6 linked regions of the Homo sapiens genome follow. The protein of the gene in region 1 purifies or fractionates together with the protein of each later gene. This does not show direct contact. Each region holds a gene or a part of one and is shown in the gene's direction. Other genes may lie near its edges. The genes, in order: TSPAN18, DIPK2A, FITM2, CNNM3, POMGNT2 and ITGA6.

Region 1 (3,500 bases):
AGTGAGGTCCTCAGCGTGCCCTGACCTCGGCTCCACCGAGATGTGCATGTGTATGGACTTCCTTTCTCCACTGGGGATAAGAAGACTGCCCCAAGTTGGTGGTTTAGGAGAATCCCAGGGGACCTGGCACCAGGATGCAGAGCCCCTAGCTCTCATTCCCCCAACTCCCAAGCAGGTGGATGGAGAGACGATGGAGGGTGGGGGCTGCACCCAACTGCCAGGCCTAAGCCCATCTTCTCCCTCTGCCCCCAGCTCACCCGAGAATTCTTCACCAAGGAGCTCACCAAGCACTACCAGGGCAATAACGACACAGACGTCTTCTCTGCCACCTGGAACTCGGTCATGATCACAGTGAGTGACGCCCCAGAGATGCTATGAACATTCAGAGCCACGATGCCCAGTGTTCACATGCCCACGCCAGGCATCAGTAATCAATCCAGGCACTCTCCCATTGATCACAGACCTGGCCTTGGAATCACCATCCACGCAGCATTCCAGGCAGCCATGCCACTTGATCACAGTCCCTACTCGGGATGAAACCTGTTTGCTCTCCCTGTCTTGGGTCCCCAAGCAATGGTCATTATGATGATGATAATAACCACAGCAACTGTTTATGGATGGCTAAGCGCCTGGTGAGGTAGGAATTGTTACTGCCACCTCTGTTATAGAGATGAGGACACTGAAGGCCCAGAGAAGCTGAGTGGCTTTCCCATGGTCACACAGTGGTGACAGGTGGAGCCCGCCCACACCCAGTCTTCTGATGCCACTCCTTTGCAGAGGCTGTATGTCCTTCTCTGTCCCCGCCCCTGTGTCCTCCTCCTGCCCACCAGAACCTTCTCTGGGATCTCCCCCTAGTTTGGTTGCTGCGGGGTCAACGGGCCTGAAGACTTTAAGTTTGCATCTGTGTTTCGACTCCTGACCCTGGATAGTGAAGAGGTGCCGGAGGCCTGCTGCCGGAGGGAACCCCAAAGTCGGGACGGGGTCCTGCTGAGCCGGGAGGAGTGCCTCCTGGGAAGGAGCCTATTCCTAAACAAGCAGGTACTGGCCCTGCTCTCCAGACAGGGGAGTGGGTCTATCGGGATTTGGGTGGCCAGAGCTGGGTGGGAGGCGCTATCACCCCAGAGGGTCTGAAGCTACCCCAGGAATCCCAGGGAAGTGTTGGCCATGATATGGGATGCCTGCACCTGAGCAGGGGCTGATGGAGGCTCTCTGTCCAAGCCCCTGAGATCCAACCAAAATGGGGAAGGATGACAGTGGCAGATGGTCTGCCGCTGGAGTGGGCATTCAGGCTGGGGCTAAGGGGTGAGTAGGAGTTTCCCGATGTTTCCTGAGTTTCTGATAATGCAGGTCCAAAGGGAGGGAGGGGGACAGAACCAGAATTGCACAGTGGGGGGCCCTTCTTAGCCATGCACTGTATTTTGGAGGAAGCTCTTATTTGCCATGTGGGGCACCCTAAGGGAGCAAGGTCTCCTTGACCTGACTCTCCAAGGTCAGAGAAGCTCCTAGACTTCAGGTTCTCTTGCAACCTGAGGACTTCCTCGCAGCCTTGGAAGAAACCCTTTCCCTTCCTGCACGTGCCATTTCTAGGGAAGACAAGCGCCTGGCTTTGTGTGCCTCCTGCCCACACACCCTTATGAGTTCACAATGCCCTTGCTCTTAATCCCCTTCTTCCCACTGACCAGCCCCCACTCTGCCAGTGTGGGTGTGTGACCAGGCTAGGCAGGAGGAGAGGGAGGGAGAGGACGAGGGTGATCTAAGCCTGGGCCCCAGCCCCCTTGCTTGAGTAGGACTTTAACGAGGGTCTCATGGAGAGTTCCAGATGCAAGAGACACAGCAGGGGACAGGAGACAAGGCCCCTGTTCCTGCGAGGCTCACGATCTCATTAGAGGACGCGCAAGATGAACAAGCAGCAAACTAATGAGAAGTAATCATTTCACATGGTCATGATTGCTGCGAAGAAATAAAACCAGATGAGGGGCTAGAATGGGCCTTGGGTGGGGGCTCAAGGCAGAACTTGCAAAGTCCCAGAGGAGGTGACAGTGAGCAGAGGCCTGGGTCCTGGGGCTCTGGCGGGCCCTTTCCAGCCTCAGCTCTGCCCCAGGAACTCAGCCCCTCTGGCCCTGGCACATCCCCATGGATTCCTGAGGCCCTGAGGGCCACGTTCTCTCTGTCCCTCATCACCCTGCCTTCCTGCATTGGGGGAAAGAGGCTCAATAGAGAAATGAGGGCCCTGAGTTGAGGCCACTGTGGACGTGGGGCAGAGAGACCTGCCGTGGGGAGCAGCTGCAGGGCGGGGAGGGGAGTTTCAGGCTTCCATGGCAGGCAGGGGTGGGCTGTTAACTGCTGTGTTGCCTTCGCCAAGACACCCTCGCTGGACCTCAGATTCCATATGTTGGCAGAGGCTGCTGGCTGCCCCCCACGATCCATTCACCCCTACTCTCTTGGGAAGGGAATGGTTATCACACCCCATGACCACCAGCTAGAGGCTGCACTTCCCAGCCTGCCTTGCAGCTAGACCATGTAACCGAGTTCTGGCTAACGGGAGGTGAGCAGAGGTGATTTGTGCAACTTGAGTCACATCCTTAAGAGAAAGTGCTGTGCCCACCCCTCCTTTTTTCTCTGGCTAGGACTTGGCAGAGGGAGGTGGCCCCTAGGATGGCAGAGCATCCAGAGAGAAGGAGCCTGGGCCACGTACAGTTCCATGGCATACAGCGGCCACCATAGCGTGGGGTTTATGTGAAAGACCAGTGAATTTGTAACTTGGTGAAGGAGCTGTTGTTTGAGATGCCCGTTGCCAACAGCCAAACTTAGAACCTTTTAATGCTACTTGTAAGTTTTCAGGAGGCTTCCCATGGGCCGCATTCCCCGCATCAGATGTGCTTCCCATTTCTGGACTCATCCTCCGTTAGGATGTCTCCTTTCCTCTCCTGGGCATGTCTTCAAAATCAGAGCTCATCAGAGAGGTCCCTGCACAGCCACATTCATTCTTTCCAGTGACTCTGTTGTTCCTGAGGGTCTGAGACTGGCTCCTGGGGTTTCTTTGCTGAGACATTCATGTCCCTCCTAGGCATTTCGTCCCGTTAAAAATCTGCTGCTGTGGAACTGTCTCTATTTGTCTTTTCCTCCAAAGCCCTCTTGCTTAAAGCCCAGGATGCATTTTTTTTTTTTTTTTTGAGACTGAGTCTCGCTCTGTCGCTCAGGCTGGAGTGCAATGGCACAATCCTGGCTCACTGCAACCTCCACCTCCAGGGTTCAAGTGTTTCTCCCACCTCAACCTCTCAAGTAGCTGGGACTACAGGCACATGCCACCATACCCAGCTAATTTTTGTATTTTTTGGTAGAGACCGGCATTTCACCATGTTGTCCAGGCTGGTCTCAAACTCCTGACCTCAAATGATCCACCCTCTTGGCCTCCCCAAGTGCTGGGATTACAGGCATGAACCACCATGTCCGGCCCTAGGATACATTTCTGACTTTGCTGGCAGGCCCATGGCAAGGAT
Region 2 (3,500 bases), on another chromosome or scaffold:
GTAACATGACTGAAAATTATTAGTGTAAGGTGAGGTTAGTATAAGGTGATAGGAAGTTGTCTGTGAAATTCTTGAGAGCTCTTTGAATTTATAACCAAAAGAACTGAATTTGTCTGTTCATTTTACAATCTGTTACAAGGCATTTGGATTGAAAGGATGGAAAGATGGCCGTAGGAAACAAGTAGCTTACTATGTAGGAGGTAGGTACACAAATAACTAATTATTATACAATCCATTTAATAAGCCCTGTACAAAAGGTATCTATATCTATCTATCTATCTATATATATATATCTATATCTATATATATATATATATCTATATATATATATATATATCTATATATAGATATATATATATCTATATATATATATATATATACTGTCACATGACTCAGGGAGGGACATCTCATTGTATATTGATAGGAATGGTACCAGGGAAAGTTTCAGAGATTTTGCCAATAGATGGGGGTGGAGAGTGGGAGGAAGGGTGGAGGGGGCAGTATTGATAGAGCATCCATTTCACATTCTGTATTACCACAAAGTTGTTGGATGGTATTGAGCAAGTCACTTAATGTTTCCGATTCTAAGTTTTTTTAATCAGTAAAATGGGGTTGTTAATACTTACCTAACAGGATTGTTTTAAAGATTAAAGAAGAAAGGATTATTCAAGTAATATCTGTTAAATGTTTTCAGTTGTAAAGCTTTTTACAGTGTATTATTTCTTTGAAAATCAGCTTATTCCATTTTTAGACAGCTATAGTAGTTAAAAGTTCTTTAGTACATTATGCTGATGTCTGTCTTAGAAATGTAAAAATCCTACTTTTCTTATTGCAGACATTCAAATGTCACTGTCCTTACATATACGTAAATCATATGTACCTATTCAGGCTATAGTTTTTTAAAAATAGTAGTTTAAAAGGGGATTAGGGATTTGTCTCATATGAAGTGTAATGAATAGAATGAATATGGTAGGAAAGACGGTTTAGATAAGGATTAAGAAGTAAAAGGCAAATAGTTTCTTTTTTTCTCTGTAAATCATTATTATAGTTTAGTAATTCTATTTAGTACATTGGTAAATGGTAGTACAAAAAAACAGGTTAAGTCTAGACCTTAGACTCTGAGACAGAATCTTAAAAGATTTGTAATCTGAAGTAAGTATGATGCTTCAGTGTCTTCGTATTTTTTCTTTCTAATGCTTTTTTGGGGGTTAACTCTGAAATGAAAAGATCTGACAGTAATTATGTGGAATTGGTCAATAGTGCCAGGAACTGATCTGTATATACCCCTGGGACACAGTAAGGGTCAGTTGAGACTAGTAAACTTATGCATATTTAAAACTTGTGAACAAGTGAAGTGTTTTTTGTTTTGTGTTTTTTTTTGGTGGGGGCAGCATTTCTTAAGCAATTTATTCTAAAAGATAATCTATTTCTATTAAATTTAGTTTTTAAAATGTGTTTTGACATCAGTTTCCAATTTTAGATACAGCTGTTGGACATGATATTCAGTAAAATAACACAACCTTACTATTTTCAAGGCATTGTTTAATATTGTTGGAATTTGAGGTGGGTGGAAAATGGCATTCAGAAAATTATTTCATGAAATAAATGGGACATATGCTAGGACTTAAAAATCTTGAAATTGTTAAGCTTCTACAGTATTTGCAATGGATTTTGGCTGCTATTTAGCAGTATAAATTAAGAAGCTAAGATCTTAGAGAAATTTTAGCAAAAATTCAGTAACCATTAAATCATCCCCGTAATTTTACTATATCTCCCCTCCAGACAGTTCACCAAACTGTGAACACATTAGTCTGTCACCAGTACAGTTGACTAATCTTTATGAACAGCTGTTATAACATGCGTTACTACAATGGGATTTCATTCAAATTTGGGCTTTAAAAAATAATTTTAAAACTTAAGTTAGCTCTTTCTTTCTTTTCTTTCTTATGTGTCTGTCTGTCTTTATTTTGATGGAGTCTCTGTCATCCAGGCCGGAGTGCAGTGGCGTGATCTCAGTTCACTGTAACCTCTGCCTCCCGGGTTCAAGCAATTCTCCTGCCTCAGCCTCCCGAGTAGCTGGGATTACAGGTGCTCACCACCACGCCTGGCTAATTTTTGTGTTTTTAGTAGAGACGAGTTTCACCATGTTGGCCAGGCTGGTCTCAAACTCCTGACCTTAGGTGATCTGCCCACTTAGGCCTCCCAAAGTGCTGGGATTATAGGTGTGAAGCCACCGCGCCTGGCCCCTTTAAGCATTTTCTATGCTTTTGATGACATATACTTTCTAAGAGTGTTTTCAAGCTTAAACTTTTTTTTTTTTTGTAGAAATGCCAGTTATGTAGAAAATCGATATTCACATTTTAGATTGTATGTTTTATTAATAGTTTTTTTGAAGTTAGTTTGTTTATACTAAGAACTTTCAAGTTTAACAAAAATCAGTCTTGCATGGTAACACATCTCTTGGTCTGTACTTATTTTCTCTCTTAAGGCAAACTGCAAAGCTATGTTCCTTTTAATGGAATATTATGAGGTAATGAAGTATTATAAAATATTTTATATTGTATAAAAGGAATTTTGATCTTTTAAATTTAGTATACAATATTTTTGGTCATGTAGGAGAAAAAAGAATACAAGCACTTTTAAGTAGACTCTATTTTAATCTATTAGTCTCATGTCATTTATTTTTTGTAAGTAAATAAACAATACCAAAATGTATTCTTTTATGTATCTTTACTCATATATTCCATGTCCACCCTTTTCATGACTGTGTTATGGCATGATAGAATGAAATGGCCTTATTAACCTGGCAGGATGGTGGATATTGATCAAAGGGTTATCGTGATATTTTAAAGGCTTGTTTTTTAGAATAAGGTAAATATACCATAGCATACTGTTTGATTTCAGTATGTAAGATAATCCTGAACATCAAGATTTTGACATGTATTTGTTTTTGCATGGCATACATATAGATGATGCTATAAAGACTGAGTTGAAGATTTCTGTTTGATTCTATAAGTCCCAACATGATCTGGTCCTTGCTTCACTCTCCAGATTCCCTTACCGCAAGTCATTTCCCCATTCATTTCACTGCAGCTGCTTTGGTCTTTTATTCATTTCTGAGAAGATACTTTCAGGCTTTTCATGTGCCTGAACTGCCCCATCTCCAGTCTGCTTAATATTAAACTCATCCTTTAGGTCTCAGCCTGGGTGGAGATCACTTAGGTTAAATAATCAATCTTAACATTATTTTTCCAGCATAATGTTGGCTTCTGGAATGCTCTTATGTAATATATAAACCGTTACCTTTATAAAATCTGAAAAATTCTTAAACAGATGATAAATAAGCAAAAACAAAAACAGAAACAAAAACAAAACAAAAAATAAACCCAAAAAAACCACCCCAAACTAATAAAGTTTAACTTCAACAAAAGGATATTGGCTTGAGGGAGGTTGTGTTAATCTATCTTTTGAATTCATTTTGACTGTTGTAAAGATAATTA
Region 3 (2,931 bases), on another chromosome or scaffold:
CCTCCACTTTTGGTGTGGCACTTCCCTCTGTCTCAGTTTTCTTCTCTGTTAAAGGCAGATATTAACAGTACTTAACTCATAGAGTTGTTTTTTTTCGTTTGTTTTGTTTTGTTTTTGAGATGGAGTCTCGCTCTATCGCCCAGGCTGGAGTGCAGTGGCACAATCTCGGCTCACTGCAAGCTCCGCCTCCCGGGTTCATGCCATTCTCCTGCCTCAGCCTCCCGAGTAGTTGGGACTACAGGCGCCCGCCACCACGCCTGGCTAATTTTTTGTATTTTTGGTAGAGACAGGGTTTCACCATGTTAGCCAGGATGGTCTCGATCTCCTGACCTCGTGATCTGCCCACCTCGGCCTCCCAAACTGCTGGGATTACAGGCGTGAGCCACCGCGCCCGGCCAACTCATAGAGTTGTTAATGGATTACCTGGTTAATACATTTAAAGTACTTACACAGGGGTGGGGTAGGGGAGGAGGGGAGGGCTGGGCACAGTGGCTCATGCCTGTAATCCCAGGACTTTGGGAGGCCAAGGTGGCCGGAGCATTTGAGGCCAGGAGTTCGAGACCAGCCTGGCCAACATGGTAAAACCCCCTCTCTACTAAAAATACAAAAATTAGCCAGGCGGGGTGATGCGCACCTGTAATCCCAGCTACTTGGGAGGCTGAGGCAGGAGGATTGCTTGAACCCGGGAGGCGGAGGTTGCAGTGAGCTGAGATTGCGCCACTGCACTCCAGCCCGAGTGACAGAGCGAGACTCTGTCTCAAAAATAAATAAATAAATAAATAAATAAAGTACTTAGTAAGTGAAGTATATGGTAAGTACCTAAAACATGATAGTTGCTATGAGCTGTAGCTTTGATCAGTTTTCTCATTTTCCCTCCCCTGACAGTGTAGAGACCTGAGTCCTGACATGGTGTCCTCTCCACCGTGTTCCCTCTCTTCACTTCCACTTTCCTCCTCTGTCAGGTATTTTGTCAAAGTGGCCTGGGCCTGGACGTTCTGTCTCCTTCTGCCTTTCATTGCCCTCACCAACTACCATCTGACCGGCAAGGCTGGCTTGGTCCTGCGGCGGCTGAGCACCCTGCTTGTGGGCACGGCCATCTGGTACATCTGCACCTCCATCTTCTCCAACATCGAACACTACACGGGCAGCTGCTACCAGTCCCCAGCCCTGGAGGGGGTCAGAAAGGAACACCAGAGCAAGCAGCAGTGCCACCAGGAAGGGGGCTTTTGGCATGGCTTTGACATCTCAGGTCACTCCTTCCTGCTGACCTTCTGCGCCCTCATGATTGTAGAAGAGATGTCTGTGCTGCATGAGGTGAAGACGGACCGAAGCCACTGCCTCCACACCGCCATCACCACCCTGGTTGTGGCCCTGGGCATTCTGACTTTCATCTGGGTGTTGATGTTTCTGTGCACAGCTGTTTATTTCCACAACTTGTCCCAGAAGGTGTTTGGCACCTTGTTTGGTTTGCTGAGCTGGTACGGGACATACGGGTTTTGGTATCCGAAAGCCTTTTCCCCAGGACTTCCTCCCCAGAGCTGTAGTTTGAATTTGAAGCAAGATAGTTACAAGAAATAAAAGAGTAACAGAGGGGGGACAGAAGGACAATGGCTAATCTATTTTTCAAATATATATTTTGCTTAGTTATTTGGCTAAATTATTGATCCTACTTCAGAGGGAAAGTGTACCAGGCAGTTTTGGTGGGTGGTGCTGAAGTCTGGGGAGTGAGTTTAGTCTTCAGACTATTCTTGGCGACATCACCAGTGTTGCAAGCACCACCATTCCCAGTTAGGCACTTTTTGTCCCTGGTAAGACTTGACCTTTATCTGGAACACTCCTTTTGTCCCTAGAGTGGGGACCTAAGGCTCAGCAAAAGGGCAGAATCAGGAAAGCCTTTATGGTGTGGCTAAAGGAGTGGCCAGAGCCTTGGGACTCCTTTGCTGCCTTCTCCCTGGTTCCAGTTGTCTTTAGATTTTCACGGCTCTTACTGCTGTTACTTAACAGTATTTTCCAGCCAGGCATGGTGGTTCACACCTCTAATCCCTGCACTTTGGGAGGCCGAGGCAGGCGGATCACCTGAGATTGGGAGTTCGAGACCAGCCTGTCCAACATGGCGAACCTCGTCTCTTCTAAAAATACAAAAATTAGCTGGGTGTGGTGGCACATGCCTGTAATCCCAGCTACTCAGGAGGCTGAGGCAGGAGAATTGCTTGGACCTAGGAGGTGGAGGTTGCAGTGAGCTGAGATCGCACCACTGCACTCCAGCCTGGGTGACAGAGCAGACTCCACCTCAAAAAAGAAAAAACAAAACAAAACAGTATTTCCCACTGGTCAGTTTTGCATAGGCATCTATTTCAGGCAGGGTTTTTTTCTTTTTTTTGAGATGGAGTTTTGCTCTTGTTGCCCAGGCTGGGGTGCAATGGCCCGATCTCGGCTCACCGCAACCTCCACCTCCCAGGTTCAAGCGATTCTCCTGCCTCAGCCTCCCGAGTAGCTGGGATTACAGGCATGCGTCACCACACCAGGCTAATTTTGTATTTTTAGTAGAGATGGGGTTTCTCCATGTTGGTCAGGCTGGTCTCAAACTCCTGACCGCAGGTGATCCACCTGCCTCGGCCTCCCAAAGTGCTGGGATTACAGGCATGAGCCACCGCGCCCGGCTCAGGCAGGGTTCTTTATAAAAACAGCCTGATGCCTGAAGGACACTCTCTGGTTGTAATATTTGTTTCATCCATGAAGTGTTTAAATATTGCAACTGACTTGCGATTAGCCACCAAAACAGGCCCTTTTAGATGCAGTGCCTCTCCGACCAAGTATTGGATGATTCATACGTAATGGACTATGATCATTTTCTGTCCATGTTTTCTATTACTATATGCTGGTTTTTTTGGAGCAATAAGATTACTTTTTTTCTGTTCTATTTTGAGCGAA
Region 4 (3,500 bases), on another chromosome or scaffold:
TTCTCCTGGTGTGGTGGCCAACATTGCAACCCTGGAATCAGCGGAGTAGGTTCCATCCTGCCCTTGCCTGCCCCCAGGCCCTGAAGGCTGCTCAGCCTCTTGTGGTGCAAAGTCCTCTGCTGTTAGTGATAAGAGTGGGTAAACAGACCTGCGGGGGGAGACTCATCAAGCACTTTGGCCAGTGCCTGGCGTGCATATGCTGTGTGCTTGGCGTTAGCAGGTGGTTCTTACTCCGGGACAGGCTCTGCTGGTAGGTGAGCTGTTTGCCAATCCAGGAGCAAGGGGTGAATCTGGAATTGCAGATTTCTGTTCTTCTAGGCAGGTCACCAGACTTCCTTTTTTTTAGGGAAAAAGTGGAAGACTGTAGCTGTCCTTTTGGTGTTCAAAGCACTCACGTTTCTAGATTCTTTAAGAAAAAGCTCACTCTGGTGTCTGGCTTCAGCTGGCTGCTGCTTTCAACAGTTGAGCAGTCACCAAGCAGAGATTTGGAGCAGCGGAGATGGAAGGGTTGTCCTGTTCAGAACTAAAGGCAACTTCTGTAGTTGGTCATGATGCTCAGGATGAGGCTGGTGAAAGTGGTCTTTCATTTTCCAAACCGCCAGTGTCAGGATCTTCGCTGCCATGGTCTTGTCTTTCAGATGCGATGGATGAGCTTGGTCCAGGGTGGTTGGGGATTCCACTTGGGGAAGAATAAAAAATGTTCATGTTCGTTGGGAAGGAGCGCAGAGGCAGGATGTCCCCTGGCGGGGGGGCTTGTGTGCTGTGTAAGGAACTTGTACTTGATCACCAGGGCCATGAGCATCAAGCAGCAGCATCAGTTATTTTTACAGATCAGTAACAATTGTGGACACCAGCGCAGGGAGACCAGCGGTGTGAGGGATCCAGGTGAGAGGGGATGATAACCTGAACAAGGTTCATGGCAGGCCTGGAGAGGAGCCCCAAGAGGGCAGCAGAGGTGGAATTGGGAAGATTGGTATCTGGCAGCAGGGCTATGCAACAAGGAGGAGCAGCTGAGGATGAGGCCCAGATTTCTGGCTGTGTGGTGGCGGTGCGCCTTCACTAAGGGCCGGGCGTGGGGAGCAGGTTTTGGCCATTGAATTTGTGTCTGTGCAGTGTCCCAAGAGGCAAACTCCTAGCAGGCCGTTGATGTGAAATGCAAGTGGGAGGCAGAATAGGAGTGTCTCTCAAGTCATGGGAGGGAGGCAGAGAGCCTCAGCCTCCTAGGAGCACAGGTGTGTCAGGGGCAAGGGAAGCCCAGGAGAAGCTGGCCAGGAGGAGGCAAGACCAAGGAAGGAGGAGTTCCCGAGATGCGGAATGTCCTGGAAGCTAAGGGAAGAGACCACTTTCCCAGGGAAGGTGAGTGACAGGAGAGGAGGCCAGCAAACAGGATGCCGTTGACCTTTGCAAGAGCAGATTTGGTGCCACGGCAAGGGAGCCATTTGGGGAATGAATGAGGTGTGGAAAGGTACGAGAACCAATGTAGACAGCCCTCCACAGAGTGTGGCTGCAGAGAGAAGTGACTGGCAGAGGATGTGGGACAGGGGAGGAGGCCTTCTGCTGTTTGGTTTTAAGATGGGCAAGTCCAGTAGGTTCAGATTGAAATGCAGGTTGAAATGTAGCTAGGAAGGAAATTAGAGAGGCCAGGGTCCGGGCTGCTCCTGTTCTGGGCTGGGTGGCCTCCAGGCAGGTCACAAGCAGCCCGATGCAGGAGGATTTGGGGTTGAGTGCCTCTGCTTGAAACAGACCTTTCTAAAAGCTGCCTGACAACATGCTGAAAAGGATCCCCTTGGAAGACAGTGGGGGAGGTTTTTGGAACCTGGAGGTTAAATGGGGAGCTCTTTAATCCCCCTTGACTTCCCCGCTCCTGTGGTGAGTGAGGGCCATTCGTGGGCAGACTGGCCATGTCTTTCTGGTGACATCCCGGAGCTTTTTTCTCTGCTTCTCTAGTTCAGTGCAGTCCTTTGGCAAATATCTTTATTTTTTCCGTGTTAAAGTCCTTTTTGTCCTTCCTAACCTTCTTAAGCATTCCTCCACTTAGGAACAAAGGGCATATTGCAGTCTTTGTGGCGTGTGAGGTTTTAAAAATCGATTCCCTTTCCATCTCTCTGCCAAGCTAATGAGCCTCTGAATTTCGTGGAGCTGGAGTCCCTGCCATCTTGGCAGCTTTCATTCCGGGTCTTGTTTCTTTTGCTGTGTCTGCTAGGGAACTTTGTAGTCTGGGGGCAAGGTAACCTCCCCAGCAAGGCGCCCCTCAATCAGTGCCAACTTGAGATGACGTGCTGATTATTTTGTGCAGACGTCACCAGGAAGAGTGAGTGCTTTGGAGCCATAATAAATAACTTGGACAGCTGCTCCTTGACTTACAAATGGAGTTATGTCCTGATAAACCCATTGTAAGTTGAAAATACCTTAAGTCAAAAATGTGTTTGATACATCTAACCTACCAAACCAAATAGTTCAGCCTGGCCCACCTTAAACATGCTCAGAACACTTACTTTAGCCTGCAGTTGGGCAAAGTCATCTAACACAAAACTATTTTAAAATAAAGTGTTGAATATCTCATGTAATTTATTGACTGCTGTACTGAAAGTGAAAACAGAATGGTTATATGTGTTTGAAGTATGGTTTCTACTGAATGCATATTGCTTTTGAACCATCAAATTTGAAAAATTGTAATTTGAACCATTGTTAAGTAAGGGACCTTAATGTACAAAAGAACATTATTATTATTATTATTATTTTTTTTTTTTTTTTGAGATGGAGTGTTGCTCTCTTGCCAGGCTGGAGTGCAGTGGCACAATCTTGGCTCACTGCAACCTCTGCCTCCCGGGTTCAAGTGATTCTTCTGCCTCAGCCTCCTGAGTAGCTGGGACTACAGGCGTGCACCACCACGCCCAGCTAACTTTTTTATGTTTTTAGGAGAGATGGAGTTTCACAATGTTGGCCAGGATAGTTTCGATCTCTTGACCTTATGATCCGCCCGTCTCGGCCTCCCAAAGTGCTGGGATTACAGGTGTGAGCCACTGCGCCTGGCCAAGAACATTATTATTATTATTTTTGAGACAGAGTCTTGCTCTGTCACCTGGGTTGGAGTGCAGTGATGTGATCGTGGCTCACTGTAGCCTCTACCTCCTGGGCTCAAGTGATCCTTCCACTTCAGCCTCCTGAGTAAGCTGGGGCCACAGGTGAACACCACCATCCCCAGCTAATTTTTAATTTTATGTAGAGATTGGGGTCTCCCTATGTTGCCCAGGCTGGTCTCAAACTCCTGGCCTCAAGCGATCCTCCCAGCTCAGCTTCCCAAAGAGATGGGATTACAGGTGTTTCCCACTGTGCCTGGCCGCAGTCTCTGCTTTAAAGGAACCCAGCTCTGGTTTCCTGTCTGCTGGGAGCCAGATGATTGCCATGATGCGGAAAAGAGTCTGACCAGCTCCAACAGCAGTGAGGAGCGTCAGCACACTACTTTTGTCTTTCTCACAGTATTCATTCATTCACTGAGG
Region 5 (3,500 bases), on another chromosome or scaffold:
GACCTTTACCTGTCTGGGTATGCAGTGCCCACTGAACTGCACATGGCTTTGGGCCTGGCCATCACTGCCCATGGCTTGGAGGCCTCATGGTTTGCTGGACATTTGTGAGAACTAGACAGTGATGCTTGCTGCAGACAGATTTGTAGCAGTCATGAGTAATTGGGACATGTAGACACATAACAGAGATGCTCATCTTATCCTCCATCACCACCAAAACACCTCCAAAAACTTGCTCAAAACTCACCCACCCTCCAGCCAGCTTCCCTGGATGATCTCTTGTTGTGCACACTTCCTCGTGTTTCTTTGTGAATGTTTTATGCTTCCTATACTGGGTGTTTTTGGCTCTCTTGATCAGTTCAACCCTCTCAAATTGGGCCTGAGGGTCCATCTGGATTTGTGTACACACTGGGGTCTGAGCATTCCCTGTAAGAATTGTTTTCATTTGATTTTGTAGTTCCACCTAGAAAACCTGGTGTAGGCGTGTTCTCCATTACCTTTGTGAGCCACACAACAGAGGTTCCCACCGTTCTGTTCCCTGTTTCATCCCCGTTTATGACCACACTGGTACACAGTGATGCCAGAGAGGACCAATACAGGCACATGTCACTTCCAGGTGACCCATTTGTGCTAAGCAAAAGCCAGATGACACGGCAGGCTGTGTGGCAAGCAAAGGTTTCTGCGTTATTTGGAGGCTGAAAACCGGTGAGAGGGTTGCATATGAGCTGGTGGAAGGCCGAACGTCCTGCCCCACACTCAAGCCTTGGTTTATCCTCAGCAAAGACTGACATCACCCTTCTCACCAAAGTAGTACAGACTTGAATTCTGTTGGAGTTTTTCCTGCTTTGAAGGGGTTCCTTTTCTATTGATAAGGCAATATAGTCACAGTCATCAGCTATTGATGGTGGATTAATGTCTCCAGCTTTGACTTTGCTTTGCTCTTTATTCTAAAGCAAGAAGATACTACCCATGTCAAAGTTTTAATCTAAGAAAGTGAGCCCTTAACTAAATGTTAAATATGCCTTGATAATTAAATGTGTTAAGTTTTACAAGAACCACTCAGACTGCCAAGATTTTGCCAAAGGATAAATACCTTGGTCAGAAAACCTGATCTATAAATGCCGAATTTATCAATAGCATTAGGTTAATATTTAATTTAGGAGCAAATGTAAGCATTATGTTATTAATACCAGTTCCATATACTACTTCAGATAACCAAAAAAAAAGGAGGGGGAAAGAGATCATTCTGAGGATAAGCTTGAGTTAGTGAAACATGTTTACTCCTTACTAATTTACAACATGTAAGACAACAAATCAATACAGGACTGAAAGCTTCCACAATCTAGCACTAGTACTTCAGGCTGCATTTAGGACAAAAACACTTTTCAGTGACAAAATAAGATTTCTATAATTTTCAATTGGAAGTGTGAACAATCCTTAAAAGTCAAATTGCTGTGAAAGTAAAATATAAAACCTTCTGCACCGTTGCTGACCCCCTCCTGGCCTGGGCCCTGCCTGATCTTCTGCAGCCTGGGTCTGGCAGGTGCTGGCTGTCTGGTCCCTCCACCTCTGTAACCCTTCTTGTGGAGGAGTGACCGGTGAGCTGCTGGTTCTGGCAGTCACAAAACTGGGAACCCGGGCACAGGCCATGGTGAGGCCAGCAGGACAGGGGATTTGCTTTAGACCAGAGCTTGCAAATGAGCATCCGTTTTTAACTGGCAACCATGAGGCCAGCAGCCCCAGGCCTTGGTGCACGTTGTCTTCACTCAATTTGAATAATTGCCAGAAGTTACAAATGAGGACATTTCACATTTTAAATAGATTTTTGCTTCTCTGGGAAAATCAGAAGAGTATTGCTATGGACTGAATCATGTTCCCCCCATTTATATGTTGAAGATCTAACCCCCCTGTGATTGTGTTTAGAGATAGATCATCCTAATAATGAAGCTTAAATGAGGTCATAAGGGTGGGGCCCTAATCTGATAGGACTGGTGTCCTTATAAGAAGAGGAAAAGAGATCAGAGTGTTTCTCTCTCTCCCCACCTCCCTCTCCCGGCTTCCTTTCTCCCTCCCTTTCCCCCTTGCTCACCTGCCCCTCTCCTCCCTCCCCACCACACAGAGAAGAGGCCATCTACAAGCCAGGAAGAGAAGCCTCACCAGAAACCAACCCTGACAGATCTGTGAGAAAATTCTGTCATTTAAGGCACTCAGTCTGGTATTCTGTTATGGGAGCCCAAGCAGACTGATACAGATAGGTACCACCAGGCTGCTTTCCCGCCATTCTCTCATCAGCTGGCATTAGGTGTTCTGTCTCCAGGTCACACAGCCCACCCTCAGCTTTACTTTCTCCATTGGCTCCGGCCCTAGCAGGCATGTGAGTGTGCACCTCCTACTCTGGGCCCAGAATTCCTGGAGCTTTTACTCCTTATCAAACCTTAAAGCCCTTATGGGCTTTTCTGTGCCCGTGTCTGGGGCTGGCCAGGGCCCCCAGAAGTACAGCCTGCACCCAGCACCAATGACCACCCTCACGTGGTGAGCTCCCCAAGGCAAGTGGCCCCACCCCACCTGCCCAGCTGTTACTGGGGTCTGCAGTTGCAACAGCATTTTTGACATTATCCTCTGATGCTCGGAACAGCTGGGATCCTAGAAAGGAGGATTCACTAAGTCTGGGGATCTGATAACATTTAACTGCTCTTGGGAGCTTAGTAAAGTGGTTTGGGGGAGTGAATTGGTAGCTTCCTCCTGTCTGCCTCAGTTTCTAAAGGGATTTTCTAGGCATGTTTTTAATCTCTTGTTGATTTCTTTTTTCTCTTTCTTTTGAAAAAATTTTTGTTTTATCATGCTTTGTCCTGGCTGAGCCACTAAGCCCTTTGTTCCCCACTCCAGTTGGTCTCTAAATTTGGTGCCCAATATAGAGGAGGCAGAGGCAGATAAACATGGTGGTGTTGAAGTACCCTGGTCTGTGTGGCCCTGGAATGCCAAGAAGGTGAGGTCCAAATGGTGCCTGGGCTATTAACATAAGACAGTGCTTAGAATCCATGTTCAGATCCTGCCTCCATTCTGTACATGCTGAGGGACTTGGACACATTTACTTAGCTTCTCCCAGCCTCTGTGTCCCAATCTATAAAATGGAGTAATAGAAATAGTGTTAGCCTCTTAATGTTGGTTTGAAGATTGAATGAGAAAATATACCTACAGTGTTCAGTATACTGCCTGGAACATAAAGTGTTAGAGGCTGGTGATTTTGAGTGTGTTTTTCAAGGTAAGAGTGGGTTCATATTTAATAGTTGTTGGTAATCTGGGAATCAGTTTCAGGTGCCGATTGGATCCTTGGTAGCAGGATGGGATGGGAGGTACAGCACGGGAATCAGCTGCTGGTCCCAGAGCAGTGGAGGGGCCAAAACTCCGCTTAGGGCACGAGTAAGAGGAGTGATAGGAAGAGGCAGCTTTTCCTAGTTTGATTACCTCCGCTTTTCTAAAGGAAAGCAAACAAATAAGGATCA
Region 6 (3,500 bases), on another chromosome or scaffold:
TCTATAGTGCCTTTAACTATTCAGTCACATTTTAAACTCCAGTTATGACTTTTGCAGAATAATATTGTGTCAGAGAGCCCCAAAACATGTCGGGTGTTCCTAAAGCTTTGGAGACTATAAAATTGAAGTAGATACCATAAACTTCATCCAGGTTTTCAGGCTGTATATTAAAGAAGTTTCGGACTCCAAAAGATTACTCAATGGTCAGCCAAGTTGGTCCGCCGAGTGACTGAGGTCAGGGTCTGAGCACCTTGGACTCTTTAATTTCTCTTAGGTAGTTAAGATTGAGTCATTCCCAGAGGTGGAAGGTATGTGATGATGACTGTGGGTATATCCAGCCTATGAATCATCACTCTTAGCTCTTCTGGGAAGAGATGGATCTATATATGATCACAGGGAAGAACCTAGAAGAAGGAGATCTATAAGAGATAGTCTCATGAAGTCATTTTGGATTTCTGCCAACCCTCATTTTCTTCTTTATGGGGTCTCTCTCTCTGACCACCACTGTCTTCCAGAAATGCTCCAGGCCCGCGGTCTGTTCTGTTCTGACCCTTACTAGGTTTGTTCTTGACTTTTCTCAGACTTGTCATGTTCCATCTCTTAAAATCATATTTTCTGAACTAGAGATCATCTAGTCCAACTGCCTCTTTTTACAGATGAAGAAACTGAAGCTGAAAGTTCAGCTTGAGCAGAATCTTAACAGAATGTGGATTTGAATCTCTGACCCATGCTCATGCCATTTTTAAATGGAAAAGCCAGAAATGTTCTTCAGACCTAGAGAAATCGGCAAGCATCTGAATTTTGGAAGTGTACTATATTGTGTTGATTTATCAAACTGCTTCCCATATGCATAGGTCAGGGCTATCTATTTAAATATTGGTGCCTGGACTCTTACTATTGACTCTATTCCAGCTGGCCTTGGAACAAGTTCTGGGTCCGTCCTTCTTTGCCTGCCTCCACCCCATTCCCTTCTGAAAAAGCCCAGTGAAGTGTGGCTGTAGCTAGCCAAGAATCAGAGCTGTATTCAGGATGTGTACCTAAGCACTTGCTTCCTTGCATTTATTCACTCGGAGTGCCATGTGGCCCAGGGCCATCTTCCAGGGATTGCTGGGTCACCTTGAATGCTAAGAGTAGAGAAAAAGCCAAAACGGGCAGCGAGACTTACAGGAAGTCTTAGGACTCTGCAAGAAAGCAGAAATAGGCAAGTTTAATTTTAACACAGGCTGGTGTGAGACCAAGTAATGACAGGGTTGGGGAAAAAAAGGGTCAAAGTATTTATATGGTATAAATAATTTGTTGGGGAAGTCAGGATAAATGCTTATATAAAAGGATTCCTTTATTATAAAGAAGTGGTTATTCTGTGTTCTCAGTTATATAGACTCTCTTAGCATAACAATATATTGAGATTTAATTTAAGCTTTCATAACCAAATAGTACCAGAATTATGGCGCATGGTTTCCTGAAGACCTCGGCTCAACATATTACTGTGGACAGTGAGGCCAGTGAATTATTTGGTATTTTCAAGAGGGACAGTGAGACAAAACAGAAAATACTGTTGTAAGCTTAGATGACAGGGTCAATTGTGCCTGAAACACTGATTTAGTGCTGAATCAGCCCATTTTAAGAATATAATCATAGCTTAAGAACCAGTTTAAAATTTCCCCATCCTACACTAAAGCAATGTCTTTAACTCCTTTGGATGTCTGTAGCACATTGTGTCTGACAATTCTGATGTTTTGTGCTAAACTGTGATCCACTATCTTTAGGACATGATCTAATCTCTCCCAACTGGATTGTAGGTTATGTGAGGGCAGGGGTCTTACATTCATTTCTTTGCCTGCTAGCACCTAGCATATGCCTTGCAAATACAATAGAGACTGATATTATACACTCAGTTTAACCTGTGACATCAACTCTTCCTGCTGAGGGTGGAGAGAGGGAGAAATCCCTTTCTTTAACCCTTTGCCCTTCCTTGCTCAGGCCTTGGTGTCTTCTGCCTCTGAGGAAACGGAATCTGTAAGCTTAGCAAAGAAACGCACAAGACGTTAATTCTTGGTTTTTGATTTTTCAAAGGCGGGGGGTTCCAGCTAAGGGATTTTCATGAGTGTTTGTAAATTTCACCTGGCTTTTGCCCTAAAGGCAGACTTTAGAACCTAACCCCAGAAATACAGGCTGACCTACACTGCAGTGGGTACTCGGGACTTGCTGAGGTGGTTGGTTGTTATGAGGCTGGACAGAGAAGGATGACTGTGGAATAGAGATCTTTCTGAAAGCAACTTGACAGGGGTGTGGGGGTCAAATGGAAGTGTGCAGTACACGTGTGAAGTCACTTGTGAATTGATAGCGGCAGGTTTATTTCTTCAAGGATAGTAAGGGAATCTTGGATATATTTAACTCTTTCGGTAGGATGGTGGGAAGGCTGCTTACCTGCTCCGGGGGTGAGCCTAGGAGCCATAGCATGGGATCTGGGGATCTGTGTAGCACCCCCGCTGGCTCCTGGGAGGATGGTAAAGATTACGTACTGCAGCAGTGGGAAGTGGACGTAGTCTCAGCCCCCGGTGCCCATCTTCCCTTTCTGGGCTTGGGTACAACTCTGGAATCAAATAACTTTATATCTGGAAGGAAGCTTAGGGGTTCTGAAACCTGGCTGGTCTTCAGGGTAACTACTTGGGCAACCTTTTATAAAAGTGTGATTCTCAGCCCAGCCTAGATCTGTTACGTCAGTTTCCATAAGTGTGCTCCAAGAAGCTGTTCTTAAAGTCTTCTTCGTTTGAGTCAGACTAGCTTTTCTCCTTTACACAGAAGGCAGAGTGTAATGTAGTGACTAAGAGCAGAGCCTAGAGCCAGGTAGGATCAAACCCTTTTCTGCCATTGACTAGCTATGATTTTGTGCAGGATTCCTAACCTTCCTAGGCCTTCCTGCCTTCAGCTGTGAAGCTAGTATCCTCGCACATTAGAATAGTCCTGGTCCAGAGTGAGCATTTTGTGTTTGTTAAATAGATGAGGAAACCAAGGCTGTAAGAGGTGCAGTGGTGGCGGCATGTCTAGCAAACTTGGTCTTCAATCTGCATCTTCCCTGCTTCCCGGCCTGTGCTGTGTATGTGCTTTCTCCTTTTAGGTTTGGTTTTCATCACGTTTAAAGGTTTGGTTTTCATCACATTCTCCCTTTCTTCCATTCCACTCTCCAGTTGAAAAGTGCATCTCAGAAGAGCCATGCCTTCTACTTAGCAGCCCTTCGTAGCTACTAAGCCATAGATAAATCCCAGTGAGGTCTCAGTGTTCAGAGATGAGTGGACAGATGGGTGCATAGACATGACGGGGCAGTGACTGTGAGCTGGATACCCATGGAGGGTGGGTGGTGCAGTTATAGGTTGGGCTTACTGCTAAGGAATACCACCTGTCTGGTTTCCAGGCCTTCTTAGACCTCTATGACCTTGAAAGCACCCCCACACCTCCATCCCTAGGAGGCTGGATAACTTGCACAACACCCAGGGCAGGTT

What was found.
Region 2: the proteins of TSPAN18 (region 1) and DIPK2A purify together in Homo sapiens (affinity purification with mass spectrometry; one large-scale study listed by BioGRID and IntAct). This does not show direct contact.
Region 3: the proteins of TSPAN18 (region 1) and FITM2 purify together in Homo sapiens (affinity purification with mass spectrometry; 2 studies listed by BioGRID and IntAct, with this or other methods). This does not show direct contact.
Region 4: the proteins of TSPAN18 (region 1) and CNNM3 purify together in Homo sapiens (affinity purification with mass spectrometry; one large-scale study listed by BioGRID and IntAct). This does not show direct contact.
Region 5: the proteins of TSPAN18 (region 1) and POMGNT2 purify together in Homo sapiens (affinity purification with mass spectrometry; one large-scale study listed by BioGRID and IntAct). This does not show direct contact.
Region 6: the proteins of TSPAN18 (region 1) and ITGA6 purify together in Homo sapiens (affinity purification with mass spectrometry; one large-scale study listed by BioGRID and IntAct). This does not show direct contact.

The regions. Positions count from the first base shown.
Region 1 is NC_000011.10:44,918,962-44,922,461, forward strand, and holds part of TSPAN18 (tetraspanin-18), read left to right. Parts: intron 1-252; coding exon 253-351; intron 352-855; coding exon 856-1,038; intron 1,039-3,500. UniProt on the Homo sapiens protein: Plays a role in the cell surface localization of ORAI1 and may participate in the regulation of Ca(2+) signaling and the VWF release in response to inflammatory stimuli.
Region 2 is NC_000003.12:143,978,323-143,981,822, forward strand, and holds part of DIPK2A (divergent protein kinase domain 2A isoform a precursor), read left to right. Parts: intron 1-3,500. UniProt on the Homo sapiens protein: May play a role in cardiomyocyte proliferation through paracrine signaling and activation of the PPI3K-AKT-CDK7 signaling cascade.
Region 3 is NC_000020.11:44,305,272-44,308,202, reverse strand, and holds part of FITM2 (acyl-coenzyme A diphosphatase FITM2), read left to right. Parts: intron 1-962; coding exon 963-1,578; 3' UTR 1,579-2,931. UniProt on the Homo sapiens protein: Fatty acyl-coenzyme A (CoA) diphosphatase that hydrolyzes fatty acyl-CoA to yield acyl-4'-phosphopantetheine and adenosine 3',5'-bisphosphate.
Region 4 is NC_000002.12:96,819,268-96,822,767, forward strand, and holds part of CNNM3 (metal transporter CNNM3 isoform 1 precursor), read left to right. Parts: intron 1-3,500. UniProt on the Homo sapiens protein: Probable metal transporter.
Region 5 is NC_000003.12:43,096,080-43,099,579, reverse strand, and holds part of POMGNT2 (protein O-linked-mannose beta-1,4-N-acetylglucosaminyltransferase 2), read left to right. Parts: intron 1-3,500. UniProt on the Homo sapiens protein: O-linked mannose beta-1,4-N-acetylglucosaminyltransferase that transfers UDP-N-acetyl-D-glucosamine to the 4-position of the mannose to generate N-acetyl-D-glucosamine-beta-1,4-O-D-mannosylprotein.
Region 6 is NC_000002.12:172,430,586-172,434,085, forward strand, and holds part of ITGA6 (integrin alpha-6 isoform b preproprotein), read left to right. Parts: intron 1-3,500. UniProt on the Homo sapiens protein: Integrin alpha-6/beta-1 (ITGA6:ITGB1) is a receptor for laminin on platelets. Integrin alpha-6/beta-1 (ITGA6:ITGB1) is present in oocytes and is involved in sperm-egg fusion.